2 linked regions of the Homo sapiens genome follow. The protein of the gene in region 2 interacts with the protein of the main gene of each other region in a pairwise test. Each region holds a gene or a part of one and is shown on either strand. Other genes may lie near its edges.

The links. Proteins that work in one complex are often made in the same cells at the same time.
Region 1: the proteins of COP1 (region 2) and ETV1 interact in binary tests that used the Homo sapiens proteins (3 or more experiments, as listed by UniProt).

Annotation. Positions count from the first base shown.
Region 1 is NC_000007.14:13,930,657-13,937,684, forward strand, and holds part of ETV1 (ETS translocation variant 1), read right to left. Parts: intron 5,241-7,028; coding exon 5,052-5,240; intron 1,094-5,051; coding exon 846-1,093; intron 1-845. UniProt on the Homo sapiens protein: Transcriptional activator that binds to DNA sequences containing the consensus pentanucleotide 5'-CGGA[AT]-3'. Required for olfactory dopaminergic neuron differentiation; may directly activate expression of tyrosine hydroxylase (TH).
Region 2 is NC_000001.11:176,197,260-176,204,287, reverse strand, and holds part of COP1 (E3 ubiquitin-protein ligase COP1), read left to right. Parts: intron 1-7,028. UniProt on the Homo sapiens protein: E3 ubiquitin-protein ligase that mediates ubiquitination and subsequent proteasomal degradation of target proteins.

The DNA.
Region 1 (7,028 bases), on a different chromosome or scaffold from region 2:
TCCCCCACTTGACCCGCTGCTTTGTACTACTTTCTAGCTCACAGAGACAAAGCTAAACTCTACGAATAATCTGTTATTCCCCTCTTAATATGTAAGAATTCTTACTTACGAACACTTAGAATCTTTGCCACCAATATATATTTTTTTTTTTTTGAGATTTTTGAGACGGAGTCTCTCTCTGTCACCCAGGCTGGAGTGCAGTGGTGCGATCTCGGCTCACTGCAACCTCTGCCTCCCGGGTTCAAGCGATTCTCTTGCCTCAGCCTCCCGAGTAGCTGGGACTACAGGCACGTGCCACCATGCCTGGCTAATTTTTTGTACTTTTAGTAGAGATGGGGTTTCACCGTGTTAGCCAGGGTGGCCTCGATCTCGGTCTCAGCCTCCCAAAGTGCTGGGATTACAGGCGTGATCCACTGCACCGGGACCCCAGTAATTTTTTCTTAAATGTTATAAGCAACATGTGACCTAGTTCAGAAGAATATTACTTTCTGTAAACATTTTTATTAAGTAGCACTGTAGTAGCAAAATAAGAAGAAAAAAAAGTACAGAATTAAGAAAAAAAATTGCAATGTCCCTCTCGAGCTGAGACTGTGCATAATTCTGTAAAGTGTATTTTTCTTTAAACTGGTTTTGTTTCCAGACACTATTTCAACCATCACCTCATGTCAAAATGACCTGATAGTTCAAATCTTTACACGTAGATGAAGTTTCAATGAACGGACAAAATCTGAAAGATCTTATTAAAAAATGGTCAGGAGCTACCTAGTCTGATACCAACACTAACCAATGTGACAAGGGAGGTGAAAAAGTGCCTTGAATGTAATTTGCGCAGAGCGCAGGCCTACCTGAGTCATATGCAAAATCTCTGGGTTCCTGTTTAATCATCAGAGGAGGGGGAAAGCTTTGGCTGGCCGCACTGCCAACCATGGTGTTGTGTTCATACACTGGGTCGTGGTACTCCTGCTTAAAGCCTTGTGGTGGGAAGGGGATGTTTGGCTCAGACATCTGGCGTTGGTACATAGGACGTCCTTCCCTTGGCATCGTCGGCAAAGGAGGAAAGGAGTTACAGGGTTCAGAAAGCTGGCGGCGAAATCTAGGGAATAAGAGAGTGTGTTTCAGATGAAACGGTAACATGGAACATTCTTTAAAATACGGATACGGTTTTCCATTTCTTAGTGAACGAACATGATACCAGCTGACCTGAAGCGTAAATCTTTAACAAGCATTACGTTTTTCTTTCCTGGATTAGTAGCTCTATGTTTTTTAATCATATGACTTATATTCCCTTTCTAATCAGTCTTTTGCAGCACTGTTGCAGTATATGAGTTAAAGATGTACTTTGAGTAAGGATTGGAGAGCAATGAAAAACTTTGAGGATTTTACACACCCACACACACACACACACACACACACAACGATTAATGGCTAAAATGCCTAGTTCTAAATCAATTGGATCACGGATAATTTCCACACAAGATTCTTAAATCATTATATACCAGAAAAAGATCTCAAACTGCATCCTCTATCTTTTAATTCTGTTACCAAACTGATCAATAAACAAAAAACCAACCAACCAAAAACCTGCTGAGAAAGCAAGAGAGGAATGACTTTTTTCTCAAATCAGGACTTTCAATTCCTCAACAATGTCCTAATTAACATTGCGTTCTAGTAAGAAACAAAACTAGGTATTATAAGGACTCAAACCCAAGCCGGTTGTAAAAAGACTACCTCTTTACTGTCAAACAGCAATGCAGACCATATTGGCTTCCAATAGATTCAAATACAGTATCAGGTTGATAAAAATAAGCATAAATGCACAGCTGATCTCCAAAGGTGAAAATAACATATAGTGTTGTATAGGTTTGGGGCAAGTCCCGCTGTTAGGACATGAGGAAGTTCTGAGGCCTCAGCAGAAGGCTAGAAATGAGTCCTATGCCTCTTTGTTCTTGGTTATACTTTATAACAATTGGCTAATCACATAATCGTTCTGTTCTGTGTTTCTCATCCATAATATCATTGACCCACCACAAAGATGTGGATTAATTAAAGATTTAAAAGTGCTCTAAAAATGCCCCAGGAGTGCTTAAAAATAACCTATAAAACATTTCTATGAGCAAATATAAGCCTAATAACCCCCCCACTAAAAGCATTCCTGAGACTTTAATTTGGAAAGTTAGCATTTAATTTCGGTAATGTTAAATAAAAATAAGGTAAAAGCTAAAGAATGGCAAAGCGATTGCTTTAGCATTTCTAAGAACACTCCATCCTGTGATTTAACTCTAGGCTCACTGGTGGTCATGGAAAGCACTGAAATTCCACCTACACCTGCAGAAAATAAACTTAGAAACTCGGATATTGCAGAGCAGTTAGGCTGACTGGCACTGCATTCATTTCCCTTCTCTTGCTTATTTCATTAGCCAAAAAAAGAAACAGAAATTATCATTAAGAACTGTCAAGGAGTGAATCAGAAAATTGTAACTTGAAGTTAAAATAAGAAACTGGCTCACTTGTGAAGCCTTAAAAGGAAGTTAATAATACTTGTAACTGAAAGCTTTGTAAGGAATCAAGCCATTTGTTTTTACGAGTCGACCTGATTCCAGTTGGAAGTTGCTGGGGAACATGTATATATCAAACACGCATGCTTCTCAGGAATTTGCAAGGTTTTGGTGCAATTCTTAGGAGCCACTGACCAATGGTAAAGAGAAAGTGATTCAAGAAGCTTCTGGAAAGGAGTTAACAGATAAGGAGAACATGCTGATGAACTCCCAGATAAAGAAAAACAGGGTGTAAGTGGTGGAAACACTGAGAAAGAGAGACAGGGCTCCTGCACAGTGGGTTCAGGAAAAAGTGCCAAAGGGCTGGCCCCAGGAGCAGAGTGAGGCTGAGGAAAGGAAGCAGGGTGCAGGCCAGTTGGCCGTAAAGCATTCCCAGAGTGAAGTGGGGTGCCTGGCTGGAGGGGGTGTTTTGGGGAAAGGATCTGTTCCCAGAGCAAATTTGCCATTTATAACTGAGGGACTGTCATTTGTTGGCCAGAGCCCTCTAAGAAATCCTCCTCAGAAACATACGGCTTTAGAGATTTTCCTGGGACTGGCCAGCTGGTACTGTCCTCAAAACTCAGTCAGGGGTCAGTGGGAAAAGACCCCGAGCTTCCCTCTTGGAGTTCCGGGCCGGCTGTTCTCAGTCTCAAATATCTGACTTCAAGTAGAGAAACTAAAATGAATTTGGCTAAAGCATTTCAAGTTAGGTCACCTAAAACCAGGCACACTGCTTATTCAGCAGGCACCTTCCCTAAGAAATAACCAGTTTGCACAAAAAGCGAATTATACAATCTATAATTCTGGCACTGATCAGAAGAGTGAGATTCAGTTATCAAGAACTCAGAAGTCACCAGTAGTGGAGAAAATAAAACTTGGTTTGTTCATATTTTTTTGTTCCCTTTCAGCTCTGCACAATGTCCATCTGTTTAATGGCCCACCCTGCAATAAGAATTCTTTCATCTGTATTTACAAAACTGTTTACACAGATGCACATACCATTGCACTCTGACAAAGTCTCAAGGCTACAGGGTGAGAAGAAAAAGATAATAGGAAGCATTTAATAACTACCCCACAAGAGGACTTAGTGATGGAACCAAGGGTGGAAAAGACAAGGCTTTGTATCACATTGTAAAGAACGCTTTCATCTTACGCCCTTTATAGCAAAATGAGTTTCTGAATTTGAGATTGAGTCCCATGAAAAAACCTATAAAAAGCACATTTGAGTGCTCCCTTATTTTCAGAAAGTTGCCAGTGGCACATCTTCTGCTTTCCTCTGCTGATCTAGAAGATTCCTTTGGCTGAGTTATTTTTACAACGGTGTCTCAGGGCCAGTTTGCACTGACTTATTGTCAAACTTGCAGGAATTTTTTGAGCCAGTTCTTAAACACAGCCACTATTAACAGTTAAATTATATAACTTCACAATCAAAAAATATGTTAAAAACAGAAGATAAAAATGCAAAACTCATCACTTTCTAATTATCTTACTACATTTCATTACCAATTATACACCTGAGGTTACTTATGTCTCTGGTATCCGTATGCTAGAAATACTACATTACGCTGTGCTATTGCATCTTTGCAACTCGGCATTCAGGGTTCTCACAGTGATGGCTCGTAGTGGGCCATGAAAGCAATATGTACATCACAGACCCAGCAAAAGCTACTGATGAGGGCGTTTTGTTTTTCTCTCATGCAGGCTGTTGCTAAACATTTACCAGCACGCCACTGCATACAGAAGCACAGGGCAGAAGAGATAAAGAAGGAGAGATGCTGTATATAAGCAACCTGATTTTAAGCTGTATATTAAGGTAGTACATCTCAGAACCTCTACAGGTTTTATTTAGTATTTTACTTAAATATGAATTTCTTAATCTCAAGGAGTCATGAATTACCTAACGCAGTATTCTCCTTAGATCTATGCTATGCTTCTTGCCTTGCTCCTTTCTAAGTAATACTAATTGAGTCTCTATCTCTTTAATTGTATATTCGCAGTGTCCAGAGTCATGCGTCTACTGATATTAAATATTAATCACCTGGAAAAGATGGTCAACAGTTTTAATCAAATAAGTTATATTCTGCAAAACTATGTACAGCTGAACCATTCAATATAAGGTAGAAAACCTAATTCCATAAGCTACCTACTAAAATTAGTCTCCTAACTTTACAGAACAAGTACACACATATGCTCATAAAAATGGGATGATCTGATTTAAAGTTTAAGTGAAGCAATTTAATTCAAGCAAAGCGAAAGGGAAATGCTCAAATGTCAGTAGATAGATTAATTTTCCATTTTAGCAACCAATTTAAATGTTTATAAAAGGAATGTTTATAAATGACTTTCTCCACAAATTATAAGTATAGATAGAGTGAGCTCTTTCTAAAAATATTTTGCACAGATGTGCAAAATTAATAGGCTCACCTTAAATCTACTCTAGGCCTTCAGAATTGTTAATAGAAATTTTTTCCAAGAACGCAAAAAACAGTTTCTAGAAAACTGGTATCTGCAGGTTACCTGTGGTCCATGGGGTAGCTGCTATCTGGTATGGACTGCGATGGAGGGAGGTGAGCTGGGAAGGCCCGGTCAGGTTTCGGTGTATGAGTTGAGTTTGGAGATGCATGATGCAGTGGGGACACTGGCGTGCTGGATGGTGTGGGGGGGTTGGAGGGCCTCATTCCCACTTGTGGCTTCTGATCATAGGCACTACCCAGGGGACAAAAGAAGAGAGAACATTTCTTTCTTTGGAGCAATTTTTTAAAAAAGTTTCTAATCCAAAGGAAGAAAAGATATTTTAGACTTAAGTCAAATGGAAATGAAAACTTTGTTGTTGCTATTGTTGTTTAAATCCAGAACAGATAAACTTCAAAATCACAACACCCTTAAACAGAAAATAGGATGATTAATGCAAAACCTTGTAACAGAACAAATATTAAATGTGTATTTTTAATGCATATACAAACAACTTAGTACAGGGAAAATTACGTCCAAAAAAGCAGTGGTATTTTTTCCATCTATTCTTGATATATCTATTTGAGAAAGTTTGATAGATCTTTCCTAAATCATTAAATACTTCTGATATTATATTCTTCTTTTATATTATGTAAGATTTTAAAACAAGAACTAACATCAGCTTAATAAGGCAGAGACCACACCTGGCTTGCTTTTATTTGTGGTGGGATTTTAAGAAGGCAATGCTTTTACTTTATTTTCATTTTATTATATTAAATAAATGATGCTTGGCATTAACTTCCCCACATGGGATAATGAAGATTAATGAGGTAAATTAAAATGTCTGATATATTTAAACTTTCTTAGAGAATAAGTAAAAAATAATGTCATTAGGAATAAAATCCTATTATAGTCTAACTTCTAAACACAGTTACAGAAGAATAAAATGAGTAAGCTTGATTTTACATTATGATTTTAAACTGCTTTCCTAGGTGTAACTTTCAGGAATGTGATTTAGCTAATTTTGGTCATCTATAAAATATTTTACTAAAACTAAATTTTCTTAAATTTTTTTTAACAACAGGGCATTTCTAAGTTAGAATGCTGTATTTCATTTTGCTGGGCGCAGTGGCTCATGCCCCTGATCCTAGCACTTTGGGAGGCTGAGGTGGGAGGATCGCTTAAGCACGGGAGTTTAAGACCAGCCTGAGCAACATGGTGAAACCCCGTCTCTACTAAAAATACAAAAAATTAGCTGGGCGTGGTGATGCATGTCTGTAGGCTCAGATATTCACGAGACTGAGGTGAGAGGATCGCTTGAACTCGGGAGGCAGAGGTTGCAGTGAGCCCAGATTGTGCCACTGCACTCCAGCCTGGCTGACAGAGTGAGACCCTGTCTCAAAAAAAAATAAGTAAAATAAAATAAAAAGCAATCATCAGTACACTTTTTTCTTTAGAAAGAAATATTTCTTTTTGAATTAAATTATGTAATAATTTATTCTGTTGCTCCATCAATGCAACGGAATTATATCCAGCTGCAAAAATCTTTTACAAGGAGTAAAGGAATATATGCTGCACAAGGCAGCTCTTGCTTCAAAGCAAAGTCAACAGTGTTCATATAATGAATTGCATGTTTGGTTCCACCTATGTTCTTTACCAGTATTTCTGAAGAAAAACCCACTTCTTTTGTGAAATGGTTCACCTAACTCATTCTCATGAATGAAGAAACAAATGATACTATTCCCCCATGAAATGCTGTACTCAATAATATTTTCTGTATAGCGATGGAAGTACCAGAATTTATTGCATATGCCATATATCACTGTGGGGACTTTTCATCCCCCAAAAGAAACACAAAATATTCAGGCAATTCCTTTATTATTGATTTGTGGATGTCAGATATGGCATATAAAACAGTGATGATTTCACAGTCACAATTCTGATTAATGCTGAAAGGCAATGACAATTCTATATCTAACTGCCATTGACTAGAAATTCCTCAATATGTTAAATAATTATGCTGTGGATACACAGTACTTGTAA
Region 2 (7,028 bases):
ATTTTATCCTTAGAACAATTCTGTGATGTTATATATAACTTATTTTTAATACAATACTAATTATTTTCTCATTGAGGCACAGAGAAGTAATTTTGTTTGTCGTTGGACAGGTAAGGACAAAATGAGAACTCAGATTTCCCAGTTCTCAACTTTGTGTTTTCTTTGTGTGCAATTAGAGAGTTTCAGATCTGTAAGTTCGAGTACATGTATTTAGCCCAGTGGTTCTTAAACGGCACAGATTGGAGGAGAAGCAGCTGTTTCATAATCATATGAGATAAATGTTTTATCCCTCACCACTCCCTTTTCTTACCTGCCCACATCCCAAGAAGACGTACCTGAATTGGAGGCTGGGGTGGGTGGTGTAATTTGCATATGCTCCCCTGGTGATAGGGACCTGTCCTTCTCCCCTCCTTGAGAACTGTTGATTTAAATAGTCACGTACCTAATTTCAGTAATAAACATTGGCCTCTCCTGACTTATATTTGAAAGTAAGTTTATATTTAATTGAAGAATTCATAAACATTTTAGGGGTTTAGGTTGCATTTTTATATTTTATTTTACACAAAAGATTGAAGGTATTATCAAGTTGAATAATTTTAACAGTGTTTTATTGATGGAGAATCTAATACAGGACAGTAGTATTTAGCTTGACATTGGATACATTTTCAACATTCAGAGGAAGTCTTTGTTATTTTGTTTTTTGCAAAATTTTCTTACGGTTCATTTAACTAGACTGTGAGTCTGGTCTGTATTTGAAAGATGACTTCTGTTTTTTATACGGACTCCTTTTTTAAACAATTCTATAACTACTGCCTTTGTATTAGCTTTTCCAGCTATCTCAAATGAAGTTTTCTACCTCTGCAAGTCCCAGCCATTCTTGCAGCAGAAGTATACGTTTGCATGTAGATAGTAAGCTCTTTATGAGAAGGTTGACTTTTTTTCTTTTTTTTTGAGACGGAGTCTCGCTCTGCTGCCCAGGCTGGAGTGCAGTGGTGCGATCTCGGCTCACTGCAAGCTCCGCCTCCCGGGTTCACGCCATTCTCCTGCCTCAGCCTCCCGAGTAGCTGGGACTACAGGCGCCGGCCACCCCGCCCGGCTAATTTTTTGTATTTTTAGTAGAGGCGGGGTTTCACTGTGTTAGCCAGGATGGTCTCGATCTCCTGACCTCATGATCCGCCCGCCTCTGCCTCCCAAAGTGCTGGGATTACAGGCGTGAGCCACCGCGCCCGGCCGAGAAGGTTGACTTTTAATCATCTGCTTGATAGAAAATAGTTAGGATCTACATTAAATAGATCTACCATTCAGTAAATATGTGACTGCCTATTTTGTGTTAAACTAAGATTCTCTCTTCTTAAGGAGCTCATGATTTAATTCGAAGAATGGCTTTTAACTGTGTAATTATAATATCATAACCTGGTATCATTGCCTCTCTTAGTGTCATGACAGATGTTAGTACCATTCCTTTTTCTTAGTGCCATGGCAGATGTTAAATACTCTAATGGACTATGCATAGTACAATATATAGCCATTACCTATTAATTACATTTTAGCACTAAAAATGAAGCCTGTTGACCATTCTTGTTAATATAACTGGTTTCCAATTTTTTTTTTCCTTTTTTTGAGACAGGGCTCTCCCTATGTTGCCCAGGCTAGTCTCAAACTCCTGGGCTCAAGCAATCTTCATGTCTTAGCCTCTCAAGCAGCGGGGATTAGAGACGGGTGCCACCACCTGTAATCCCAGGATATTTTTAATAGTCTGAAAAACACGTGGCTCTGTTTTTCAGACTATTAAAAAGTGAGGGTGGGCACCTTGGTTCACGCCTGTAATCCCAGCCCTTTGGTAGGCCAGGGCAGGAGGATTACTTGAACCCAGGAGTTTGAGACCATCCTGGGCAACATGACGAAACCCCATCTCTACAAAAAATACAAAAATTAGCCTGTGTGGTGGCTTGTGCCTGTAGTCCCAGCTACTCAAGAAGCTGAGATGGGAGGATCACTTGAGCCTGTGAGGTCGAGGCTGCAGGGAGCTATGATCACACCACTGCACTCCAGCCTGGACGACAAAGTGAGACCCTGTCTCCAAAAAAAAAAAAAAAAAAAAAGTGAACTAGAACGTATCATAGAATCTGTCGTAATAAAGACAGTAACAGTTTGTGCAGCAATGTATGTGGAATGTATTTCTCACTGGGTACACTGGTAAAATTTTTTTTAAAGTCACTGAATTATAGGACTGAATTTCCTCTGATAGGAAAGTGGAAAGTTTAAGTGACTTTTCTTTTTAGACCATTGTGAGCTTATAAATATAGGACTAAATATAATTTAAAGAGCTGTTAAAAGCATGTTCAGTTACTGGAATAAACCAGCATTTATTATATTATTATAGTAATATCTGTCAAGAACTTATTTGAATCTGCAAAAGTCAAACTTGATGCTTCTTTTGCTTTATAATACATGTGCCATTTGGATGTCAATGATGAAACATACTCTGCAGGAGATGATGTCATATTTTATCAGACCTATTGGTACTGTCAGACCTGTGGACTATCAGATGGTGGGGCATCAGCATCAATGGTAGCAGGAGACTTCTATGGGTGAATTAAATGGTAGAGAAAATAGATGATCATGAAACAGGATAGGAAGACTATTAACTTGGAATTGTAGTCTATAAATTGAGAAGAAGGTACTTGTGCAATAGTAGTTCATTACTAAAGAATGTGTTGATAAGCAGTTATCTTTTCCTTTTACAAATCTTTATACCTTTTCTGATAATGAGCCAACATTACATAGGTGGATATGTTCCATCTAAGAACTGTTACTGATTAAAGTAACTGTAGCCTTAAACCTTGTTGCTTACTTTTCCTTCTTGTATGTGTATGTTTTTTCTTAATGGTGATTTTTTCATATTTTATATAATTATTTTAACCTGCTACCCTTTTCCTCAGAAAACTTCCACAGCTTGGGAGGAAAGGCTTTTTTGACGGTGGAATTAGCCCATCGTCTTTTTCCTGTTAAAATTTGTATTACAGGGTGAGTATCCTCTATCTGAAGTGCTTGAGACCAGAAGTGTTTTGGATTTTAGGGGTTTTTTTGGTTTTTGTTTTCGAATTTTAGAATATTTAAATTATATTTACCAGGTTAGTATCCTTAATCTGAAAAATCTGAAATCCAAAATGCTCCAGTGAGCATTTCCTCTGATAGTCATGTTGGCACTGAAAAAATTTTTGATTTTGCATGATTTTGGATTTCAGATTTTCAGATTAGGGATATTCAACCTGTATACCAAATAAAATGTTTTTTAAGTTGGGCATGATGGTGCATGCTTGTAGTCTCAGCTCCAGGAGTTTGAGTCCATCCTGGGCAATGTAGTGAAACTCTGCTAAATTGTTTTTAAAGTTCTTGATCTGTTTTTATATGTGATGTTGTATGTAGGACAAAATTCTGTAAGCATTCAGGTTTTTGTGCAGACTTGTCTTTGCCCTCCACCTTACTTGTTCTTTGTCCTCTTTCTTTATGTGTGTATGAGCCAAGTTCTATTCAGATAGGTTGGTACTTTCTCAAACAATATATTCACTGAGAGTAACATGTTTTTCTTTATACTTAAAATATGTTAGTTGTCCTTTCATTTTTCACAATTAAGTTTTATGAACTGATTTTGCCTCTGTTTCTATATAAAGTGAAACATAGAATGCAGTAGGTGATCTGATTTCTGTTTATTGTATTTCTGGTGTAACCATTGGGAATCCATCCTTCTTTCCTAATCTGTGTGGTTTGGGGTGGTACATTTTTTCCCCAAATTCAGAATTGGAACACATGATCCATGCTCAAGTGTCTAGTGCATTGGAATCCTCTGTCTTTAGTATTAATTCACAGATGGGCATTTGGCTCTAAATAGAGATAATGAGACAAAGTAGGCTTTGTAAAAATTACGACTGTTTTGGGGGTTCTTTTAGATATTTGAAACTCAAACGTTCATAAATGCCAAGTCCACTCAAGTGAAGATGGAATGTGTTGTACTGACAATTAGTTTGGGACAAATACTCATAATAATAAGTGCTCAAATATAAATTGCTATTTGCCAGGCACTATTTTAAAGGTTTTACGTTACTTGTTTAATCTTCACAACAACTGTTTGCTGTAGATACTCTTATAGTTCCCATTTTGTAGATGAGGAAATGTGGCCCATAGAGGTTATATAACTTGTCTCAGTTACACGGTTAATAATGGTGGTACCAGTATTTATATTCAGACAATTTGGCTCAGAGGTCAGGTTCTTAACCACTATTACAAATGGTTACCCAAGTTAACCACCCATTTCCTTGCCTTTATTTAGAGGCTGATTTTGTTTAAAATTAGCTTTACTAAGTTATAATTTGCATAAAATAAGTCACTGGTCATAAGTGTGTAGTTGAATGAGTTTTGACACATGAATACACCTGTGCAGTCACCACCCTAATGAAGATATGATACATTTCCAGAAAGTTCACTTTTGCCAGCACTTCATACTCTGTGTCTACCTTCACACCTAACACCTGGCAACCAGTGATCTGCTTTGCATTGCTGTCATTTTGCCTTTTCTGGAATTTCATATTAATGGAGTCCTTTAGTCGGTAGTCTTTTGTGTCTGGTTTCTTTCGTTTGGTATAATGTTTTGAAATACACTGATGATGTTGAGTGTACTGTTTTTTTTCTTTTAATTGCTTAGTATTATCCCATTATATGGATATAACATGAACTGCTTATATATTTGCTAGTTAAAAGATTTTTGACTTGTTTCTAGTTTTTGGCTATTATTTAGAAAATTCTGTAAGCATTCAGGTTTTTGTGCAGACACGTCTTCACATTTTTAGGGTAAAAATATCTAGTAGTGAATTGCTGAGTTCTCTGCCAAGTGTATGTTTAGTTTTAAAATAAACTGCAAAACTTTTTAAAAACTGCCTCTACCATTTTGCATTTCTTTTTTATCTTTTTTTGAGATGGGAGTCTCATACTGTCGCCCCAGCTGGAGTGCAGTGGCACGATCTCAGCTTGGTGCAACCTCTGCCTCCTGGGTTCAAGCAATTCTCCTGCCTTAACCTCCCGAGTAGCTAGGATTACAGGCGCCCGCCACCATGCCAAGCTAATTTTTTGTATTTTTAGTAGAGATGGGGTTTCACTGTGTTGGCCGGGTTGGTCTCGATCCCTGGACCTCATGGTCCCCACGCCTCGGCCTCCCAAAGTGCTGGGATTACAGGTGTGAGCCACCACACCCGGCCACCATTTTGCATTTCTACCAGCAACAATTAAAAGTTCTTTTATTTGGTTTGTATTTATTTCTTGTATTGTTTTATTTGTTTTTAATTGTTTCACATCCTTGCCAGTGCTCAGTGTTTTCAGTCTTTTAAATATTAGTCATTTTTGTGGATATGTAGTTTTATCACATTGTTATGTAACATATTTTTATGTGCTTATTTTTCATTTGCATATCTTTTGTGAAATGTCTGTTTTGATCTTTGGCCCATTTTTTCCCTTAAAATTGCATGTCATCTTGCGTTGTAAGTGTTCTTTATGTATTCTGCATACATCTTTTGTCAGACCTGTGTATTGTGGTATTTTCTCTTAGTCTGTTGCTTATCTTTTCATTTTCTTAATAATTTTTTAAAGTGCAAAAGTTTTTTCTTTTTTCTAATGTATCGATAAAGTTTTCAGTTTTAAGTCCAAATTGATTTTTATTATTTTTAATTTTTGTGTTCTAGCTAAGAAGTTATCTAACATGAAATTAGAAAACATTCTCTTGTATATTTTCTACTAGAAGATTTATAGTTTTCTTATGGTTATGATCCACTTCAAGTTAGTTTTTATACACTGTGTTTGGTAAGGGTTGAAGGCTTCATTAATATTATAACATCATTTGTTGAAAAGATCATCTCTGTTCATTGAATTTTCTTGGCACCTTTCTCAAAAATTAACCATATATATGAGTTTATTTCTGCAATTTTTATTCTGTCCCGTTGGTGTATATATGTTTATCCCTACACAAGTGCCACACTGTTTTGATTATGGTATTATTATAGTACATCTTGAAATCAGGTAGTGTAATTTTTATCCTTTATTTCAAAGTTGTTTTGATTATTTATGTTCTTTGCATTTCCACATAAATCTTAGGATTAGCGTGCCAATTTCTATAAAAAAGGATGTAGGATTTTAATGTTGGTTACTTTGAATCTGTGATTTCATTTGGGAAGATGACATCTTAATATTATCTTTTGAATCATGAACATAGTATATTTCTCCAATTATTTAGGTCCTCTGTAATTTCTCTTAGCAGTGTTTATGCTTTTCAGTTGAGGTTTTTCACCATATTTTTAAAATTTACCCCTAAGTATTTTATGTTTTTGATGGTGTTCTAAATGTTGTTCTTTTAATTTCGATTTCTAATTGTTGCTAGTATGTAAATACACTTTTTTTATGTTGACCTTGTATTTTATGAAATTTTAAGTTTACTTACTAGTTCTAATAATTTTTTGGTAGAACCTATAGGATTTGTAAGAAAACAGTCATGTTATCTGTATATGAATATACTTTTACATCTTTTAAATTTATATGCCCTATTTAAAGAACGTACGTTAATGGATTTATTTGATTGGGTAATTGTTTAAAAGGATTTTTTGGACCTTTATTAGTGAGTGATACTGGTCTGTGAATTTCTTTTAATTTTTTTCTGGTTTTCATATCACAGTGTATTGGTTTGCTTGGGCTGCCGTAACAAAATACAACAGACTAGGTGGCTTAAACAACAGAAATTTATTTTCTCATAGGTCTAGAGACTAGAAGTACAAAACAATGTGTAGGCAGATTCGGTTTCTTCTGAGGCCTGTTTCCTTTCTTTTTTTCAAAAGAGGTGGTCTTGCTGTCTCGCCCAAGCTGGAGTACAGTGGCACCATCACACTGCTTACTGCATCCTCGAACTTCTGGGCCCAAGGGATCCTCCTCCCTCATCTTCCTAGTAGCTGGCTCTACAGGCATGTGTCACCACACCTGGATAATTTTTA